2 linked regions of the Homo sapiens genome follow. The protein of the gene in region 1 purifies or fractionates together with the protein of each later gene. This does not show direct contact. Each region holds a gene or a part of one and is shown on either strand. Other genes may lie near its edges.

Region 1 (4,349 bases):
CTTAGAAAGCACATACCTTGTTCTCCTTATAGAGAAATTCAAGATGCAAAACCTTTCGAAGATCATTTCTGTTGTTTATGCTGAGGTCAGAGCGTGGGCGTTCCTGGTCCATGGTCACACATGTCTTCTTTAAGCCCTGAGGGAAGAAAGCTGAATCGCTGTTTACCATCTTAAATCAAAACCCGCTGTTCTCATAAAGCACAAGCAAACGATTCCTGATGTTCACCAAGATAATTCTCATATAACCTTTACACTTGACATCACCTTTGCAATAATTAATATTATTCTGATTCTTACAACAGCCCCATGGGCTAAGTGAAGGCTGAAGTTTTCAGGCCATTTCGCAGATAAGGAGTGAGTTCAGGACTCGCGCACAGGAGTCCTGGGTTTGGCCCTACATTTGGAACCATAGTATATGAAGCTTTAAAATTAAACAAAAGAAAAAATGTAAACAAAAGGCTAATATTCATTCCCTTCACTCTCAGATGGGGAAACCAGGAGATGGGGTTGACTTGCCCAATGTAACACAATGGAATCACATCACAGGTGGGGGCTGTAACCATCCCAAACTGTGAGTCCATGACTCTGGGACCCAGGCCCATGAGAAGCTCTTGGTAAATGCTAAGTCATGAGCAAAGCCACTTTCCATCATCCCACCCTGAACTGCCAGAAGACCAAGGTTCAAGGCCCAGCTGAGACATGCTCTAGCAATGGAAAATCTGGGGTTGGCGAAGTGAGGGTCCTGTTCGCAAGTGCCTGGCTTCTCTATTTGAAAAACAACCACAGCAGTTGCTCTCTGCCCACCTCACTGGGCCATGGTGATTGTCAAATGGCTGGAGGCTGAGAACATGCCTCACCAACAGCTCAGCCTGGTGTTAGGGGTGTTCCTTGTTCTTAATGGATTCCAGACCCCCAGTGCTACACAGGCTTCAGCCTCTCCCAGAGCCTTTGTGTTCAGAATTTTACAGAGGCTCTAGCTGCTGGGGAAACATGACAAAACCCATGCCCACCATGAATTTAGCTAAGAAGGTCAATTTGGGAAACTAAAAGAACACAATCTTGAAACAAACAGAGGAAAGAGGAGGCCGTAGGGAAGGGAAATGGAAAGAAATGGATATATGGGTCAGAAAAAAGGTGGATTAGGTGCATCGGGAAGAGTCCATTTGAAGGAGAGGTGGGGTTCAAAACCAACCACCCGCATTTCATCTGGGCTTAACCATGGCTTTCCCTCCAGTCAAAGTGATGTGGAACATGCTATAACGAGGCTCTCTCTGATGGATAATTCTTTATGTCTGTCAACAGTTCAAATCAGCAAGCCCTGTACATTTAACAAACCCCACCCCTACCCTGGCTCTAGAGCGTGATGCACACCAGCATTTGAAAACCACCGGGGGCCTGGGCATGGTGCCATAGGCCTGCAGTCCCTGAACTTTGAGAGGCCGAGGCAGGAGGAATCTTTGAGCTCATGACTTCAAGGCCACAGTGAGCTATGATTACACCACTGCACTCCATCCTGGATGAAAGAGTGAGACCCTATCTCTAAAAAAAAAAAAGAAAAAGAAAAAGAAAGAAAGAAGAAAAGGAAAGAAAAGAAAAGAAATACCATTGGGGTAGAGGACAAGGGTGCCCTTGGGAGTCAGCCAGTCCTCAGTCCCATCCAGCCCATTCAAACTTCATTCGCCCAACAAACACCTGTCATGCACCTCCTATGTGCCAGGCTCTGTTCTAGATGCAGGAGAGACAGAAGGAATAAGAGCTGATGTTCTGTTGGGAAAGCAGACCATAAATGTATAGTGTGGCAGCTGCTAATATGCACTACGAGGGAGACAAAGCAGGGAGAGGGAAGACAAGGATGAAGGCCACTGTTTTAGATGGCCAGCTATTTGTTCAGCATCATCCACATGCTCACTCCTGTCCCAGTTTCCCTATCTGTGAAACGAAGGGAACAGACCACTAGTCCGTAAGTCCAGTTGCTAGAGGCAGAGCAGTGAACAGATGAAAGTCCCAGTCCTCAGGGAGCTTGCACTCTATAGGGGGAGAGACAACAAGTATAGTATGATATGGGGAAAAAACATACAAAGTAGGATAAGGAGACAGAGAGGGCTAGGGTGGGTGTGGGGATGCGCTGCTACTTTATCAAAGGTGGTCAGGAAAGGCATCATTGATTGATGAGGGAATCAAAAGAGCAGGCCACACAGACACTTGGGAGAAAAGTGTTCCAGGCAAGGAACAGCAAGTGCAAAGGCCCTGAGCCAGTTGCAAAAGGCCAGTGCATCTAGAGCTGCATGGCAGGGGAAAGGAGGTAAGGAAGTCAGAAGTCACCCAGAGACTCATAAGGAAAGGTCTTGTGGGCTTTTATGAAATGGGAAGGCTACTATTTTGAACTGACATATTTTTGAAAGATCACTTGGCTGCTAGGTTGAAAATAAACTGTAGGAGGCAGGAGATTAAGGAGAAACCATTTAGGAGGCTATTGAACAATTCACAAATCACATGAAACAAAGGGGTGGCTTGGAGCAAGGTGTTTGCAACAGAAGTGGTAAGAAGTGGCTACATTCTGTATGTGCTCTGATGATAAAGCCAACAGATTTGCTGATGGACTGGATATGAGGTGCACAAGAAAGGAACAAGCCAAGAATAATTCCAAAGTTTTGGGCCCAGGCAACTAGAAGGACAGAGATGCCATTTATTCCAATGGGCACAGTTGTAGGAGGAACAGGAAATCAGAAATTGAGTTTTGGACATTATGATAAATATATATTTGTTCTGTGTCCCAGGTTCCTGGCACATAGATTCTAAAATCCTTGGAATCTCCAAGGTGATAAGAATGTCTTCTGTATGCTAATGTGATGACTAGTGGATGGGGACCCCTAGATAGCTTCAGGATGGGGGCTGGTCACCAGAAAGAGCAAACCTTGATTAGAGGGCTGGAACTTTCAGCCCTACCTCCCAATCTCCCAGAGAGGGAAGAGAAGCTATAGATTGAGCTAACCACCAATGGTCAATGATTTAATCAAACATTCCTATATAGCAGAATTGACACAAAATCTCCTGAATGATGGGGTTCAGGCAGTTCCCAGGTTGGTGCTGGGAGGGCAGCATGCTGAAGACGGCACAGAAGTTCCATGACCCTCCACCCACACCTTGCCCTATGCATCTCTTCCATCTGGCTGTTCCTGAATTGTGTCCTTTATAGTAAACTGGTAAATGTAAGTAAAGTGTTTCTCCGAGTTCTGTGAGCCATTCTAGCACATTATTAAAACTGTGGAGGGGGTTGTGGGAACCCTCAATTTATAGCTAGTTGGTCAGAAGTTCAGGTGGCAACTTGGGACTTCTGACTAGCATCTGAAGTGGGGGCAGTCATGAGCGTGACTTAACCTGCAGGGTCTGCACTAACTCTTGGTAGTGTCAGGACTGATTTGAATTGTACGACACCCAATTGGTGTCTGGAGAGTTGGAGATTTAGTTTGTATGGAGGAAAAATCCCCATACATTTGGTGTCTGAAGTGTGAGCAGAAACACTATCAGAGACATGTTGAGATGCTTGTTAGACATCCCAGTAGATATGTAGAATAGGCAGTTGTAAGAATTCAAGAGTTCAAGGAGAGGTCTCAGCTAGAGATAGACATTTGGGAATTGTCAGCATATAGATGGTATGGGAATCCACAAGACTGGCTGAGATGTCTTGAGAGTGAACGGAAAGAAGAAGAGAAGAGAGCCATAAACTAAGTCCTTGAGCCCACCAGAGTGCACAGGACAGAGAAACTAGGGGGACCAGCGAAGACCCTGAAGGGAGCACCCAGAGGAGTAGGAGGAAAGCTAAGAGGGACAGTCTCCTAGAAGACAAGCAGAAGGACACAATCAACTGTGACAAACATAATCATTAGATCAAGAAGGGCGAGGACTAAAAATTCCAGGTTAATAATGGCCCTAAGAAGAGCTATTTCCATGGAATGATGGGGACAAAAGTCTGATTAAAATGGGTTCGAGAAAGCAGAGAAAAGAATTAAAATGAAAGTAGACACAGGTCCTTTATGGGGTTTCTATAGAAAGGGAGGAAATAATAAACCAGTAGCTAGGGTTTGGGGGTCAAGATGGGATTCTGCAGGAGCACAACATGTGCTGATAGGAGTAACCTAGTAGAGGAGGGAAATGCATGGTGCAGGAGACAGCGACATCCCTGAGCACACAAGAGAGGGCATGCACACATGGAGGGGTGGGCCTAACCAGGGGTATGGAGAATTCATCCACAAGAACACTAAAGAGAGCAGAGTGAATGGTGCAGCCCAGGAAGGTGAGTAAGTGTGGTAGTGGGAGCCTGCTGGACTTCTCTCAAGACTTCTGTTTTC
Region 2 (3,426 bases), on another chromosome or scaffold:
GCCACTCCCTGTTTGTCATGCTGGCTTGCTGATGGCCTGGGGTAGCTTTTCCCCTTCCAATTGCTTCAGCCAGATTAAGTCACCCAAGATGCTGATAATACGGACAAAGGTCTCAGACTACAGAGGAAGCAAAGGGTGCCTCTTTGAAAGTTAGCAAATGGTTCCATTTGTCACTCCAGAAACCTGCAAAGAACTGGGGCTGGCACCTGCTCCGGTCAGCACGTCCCCACCAGTCAGCACATTCCGAGACATCATCTCCCCCATTCTGGGTCACCCGGTGGAGGGCACAGAAGCCACTCACCCTATGGACCTAGAGACCAAAGTTTCAGACTGTCTAGGACTAACCTGTTTTCCCATGATTTTGTTTTCTCTTTCAGAAAAGACCAGGATGTTTAACTTACTGCTTAGTTTAATTTAATGTGCCTTATGCATCATTTCATGTTGATAAATGTGTAACTCTCCAATCATGCTTTATGTCCTGAGTTTCTGCTTGGGGAACACAGAGAATGTCAGTTCTCAGTTGTCAGGAGGGCCTGCCCCATTCTCTGCTTTCCCTGTCTTTGCCTCCAGCCCTGGCTCTGGGAGAGATGAGAGGAAGGGCCAGGGTCCCCTTCTCCCTTCCCAGTGCCCTCACCTGCACTCCTCGCCCTCCAGCAGTTTGCGGTAGGTGGCGATCTCCACATCTAGGGCCAGCTTCACGTTCATCAGCTCCTGGTAGTCACGCAGCAGCCGCGCCAAGTCCTCCTTGGCCTGCTGCAGGGCCTCCTCCAGGTCATTCAACTTGTTCCTGGCATCCTTGAGGGCATGCTCCCCACGCTGCTCGGCATCTGCGATGGCATCTTGCACATTCTTACACTATGACAGAAGGACAGAGAATGGATTCTGCCTGACGGAGGCGGACAGAGAGCAGAGGTGTTCGAAGTGCAGGAAGCCAGAACCACTGGCCCTGGGAGTGTTAGGTCCCCTCTGGAGTTTAGTCGCAAACAACTGTGCTAAGACTTGCCGCTGTCTCTGGCACATCTTCTTCCCATGTCACCGTTGATGACACCCTTTGGCTTTCCCCATAGTGCCCTTTGATCCTCACATCACAGGGCCTGAATCATGATCCCATTTTACAGATGGAAATGAAAACATTTGAAATGGTCTGCTTGGCAAAGCTTCTGCTGCTGATGGAATCCACTCTCTGCCTCTACCTTTTCTATTCCAAAGCTAACGTCCAGCCCCAGGCCAGCTGCCCTCAATACTCACTGCCCCTCTATGAAACCAGTCGGCTGGTGCTCAGGGCCTGTGCTGAGCACAAACGGGAAGCTCCATCGGCAATCTGCAGCAAATCAATCAAACTAACGTTTGCTCTATTTGTTATGACTCCCTTTTCCTCATATAAACAAGTGAGCACAATTCTTTCCCTTCGATAATCCTTACTTTGGAATGTCTATTAGAGCACTCTAAGAATTGTTATAATAAGCCATAAATTATGTTAAGCTGGGGAATTTGGGATCGATACATGCTAGAGTGCAATATCTCAGTGTCTCTCATCTCTCACATGCACACTCACACACAACCACACTCTCACGCACACCCAGAGACAACCTCCCGCCCCTCGCTGGACAGGGCTGGGCCTCACCTGCTTCTTCACATGTGCGATCTCCCCCTGCAGCCTCTGGATCACGCGGTTCAGCTCGCTGATCTCTATCTTGATCTCTTTCAGGCTGTCTCCATGTCTCCCGACAGTCACCTGGAGCTCCTCATACTGATATGGGGAGAAGAGGACAGTTTGCAAGGAAGTTCCAGCCTGGCTCACATTCCAGACTGACTGGAGTGAAGGAGAGCTGGTTACTGGTCCAGGGAGGGTCAACCCAGCTAAATGTCATGGCTGCATTCATGAGAGGTAGGGACTGTCTCACATGCCCAAAAGGACTTGGTGCCATTCTCAACATCCTTTCTTGGGAATGGTGCCCAACTACCATTAAACAAAAAACCAATAACCTTACTGTACACTTTCCAGCTGGGGGTGCAACCCAGCTCATGGCAGGGAGCTGTGGCTCTTCCTACATTCCCTCTACTTGCCTTGCTGTGGTACAGGGCCTCCGCTTCTTCCTTGCTCCTCTGGGCGATCTCCTCATACTGGGCCTTGACCTCGGCGATGATGCTATCCAAGTCCAGGTTGCGGCTGTTGTCCATGGAGAGGATGACGTTGGTGTCAGTGACACTCTGATGTATCTGGGATATCTCCTACAACACACAGGAAGGTCTGGTCATGACATCCTGCCATAGCTACAGGCAGACAGGAGGCCTCTGTCTCCCAGCATAAGGGAAACGCAGACCCTCAGACTAAGCATACACTAGGTGGGATGAAAATCATGTAACCGTCTACTCCTGGGCCTCTCCCAAGGTTGTCCTGAGAATTGTAGTGAGAGGCACCTGTATTTCTGAGCCTCCTAGTTAACATTCAGCACTTAAGCCAGTTATGGTAAGTGCCCCCAGACAGAAGCTTGTCCATGGCAAATACCTTAAATGGACTTCCTGTTTCAGAAATCATCTGTGCACCCTTGGGTTGGGGAGGGGGATAGGAGACAAATGCATTTTGACCTCTGAAGTACAGTAGGCACAGGAATGGGCACAGGGCTTGTCTCTTCCCCAGGGGAAATGGACATCTGGGGAATGGAGGGAGGGGAAGCTGTCCTGGTGTTTCCTGAACCTTATTCCCATAACATCGGAGGAGAAAATTCCTCACCCACAAGACCTATGCTATGAAAGCCCCCCCAGTGGCCTGGAATGATGGCAGATTGAAGTCAGCTGGTCCATAAACCCCACTTCTGCCACTTTTTCACCAAGCAGAAAGGACTTTCATTTGGTGAGAAGGGTGGGAAGTAAGGGACTGTCCCGGAGCAGCCTCCTTACCGCATCATAGAGAACTTTCAGAAACTCAATTTCCTGGTTCAGCAGGTCCACCTTGGACTGCAACTCCACCTTTATCATGTAGGCATTGTCCACGTCCTGCAAGAAAGGTTGAGGCCTCTGGTGTATGGTTCCCTGTACAGGCCTCTTCCTCTCTCTGCCACTCCCCTCTACTCAGTCCCTGCTGGCTCCTCTCTAAAATCCCAGGCTCCCCAACCTGATCCCTGTCCCCATGGGACTTCTTTTGTCGTGCAGTTTACCATACACCTCTGCCAGGGACTTCATGCCTACGTCCATGGCTCACAGCCCTCAGGACCATCAGAGCCTCGAGATGACCAAGCTTTGCCAACCAGCCCCTCTCTCCTGCTTGAGACACTGTGTGTTTCTACAACAGGATACGATGTTCTTTGTGGGTTTCCACAGTCCTCAGCTCTCTCATCCCGTCTGTCCATCTCACCTCTCCGAAATTTCCCCAGAATATACACCAAAGGCCCTGCAGGACCCAGCAGGAGAACCCTTGCTTTTGGC

What was found.
Region 2: the proteins of MINDY4 (region 1) and KRT2 purify together in Homo sapiens (affinity purification with mass spectrometry, with the first as the bait; one large-scale study listed by BioGRID). This does not show direct contact.

What each region holds. Positions count from the first base shown.
Region 1 is NC_000007.14:30,774,219-30,778,567, reverse strand, and holds part of MINDY4 (probable ubiquitin carboxyl-terminal hydrolase MINDY-4), read right to left. Parts: intron 137-4,349; coding exon 17-136; intron 1-16. UniProt on the Homo sapiens protein: Probable hydrolase that can remove 'Lys-48'-linked conjugated ubiquitin from proteins.
Region 2 is NC_000012.12:52,646,106-52,649,531, forward strand, and holds part of KRT2 (keratin, type II cytoskeletal 2 epidermal), read right to left. Parts: intron 2,998-3,426; coding exon 2,902-2,997; intron 2,233-2,901; coding exon 2,068-2,232; intron 1,751-2,067; coding exon 1,625-1,750; intron 856-1,624; coding exon 635-855; intron 1-634.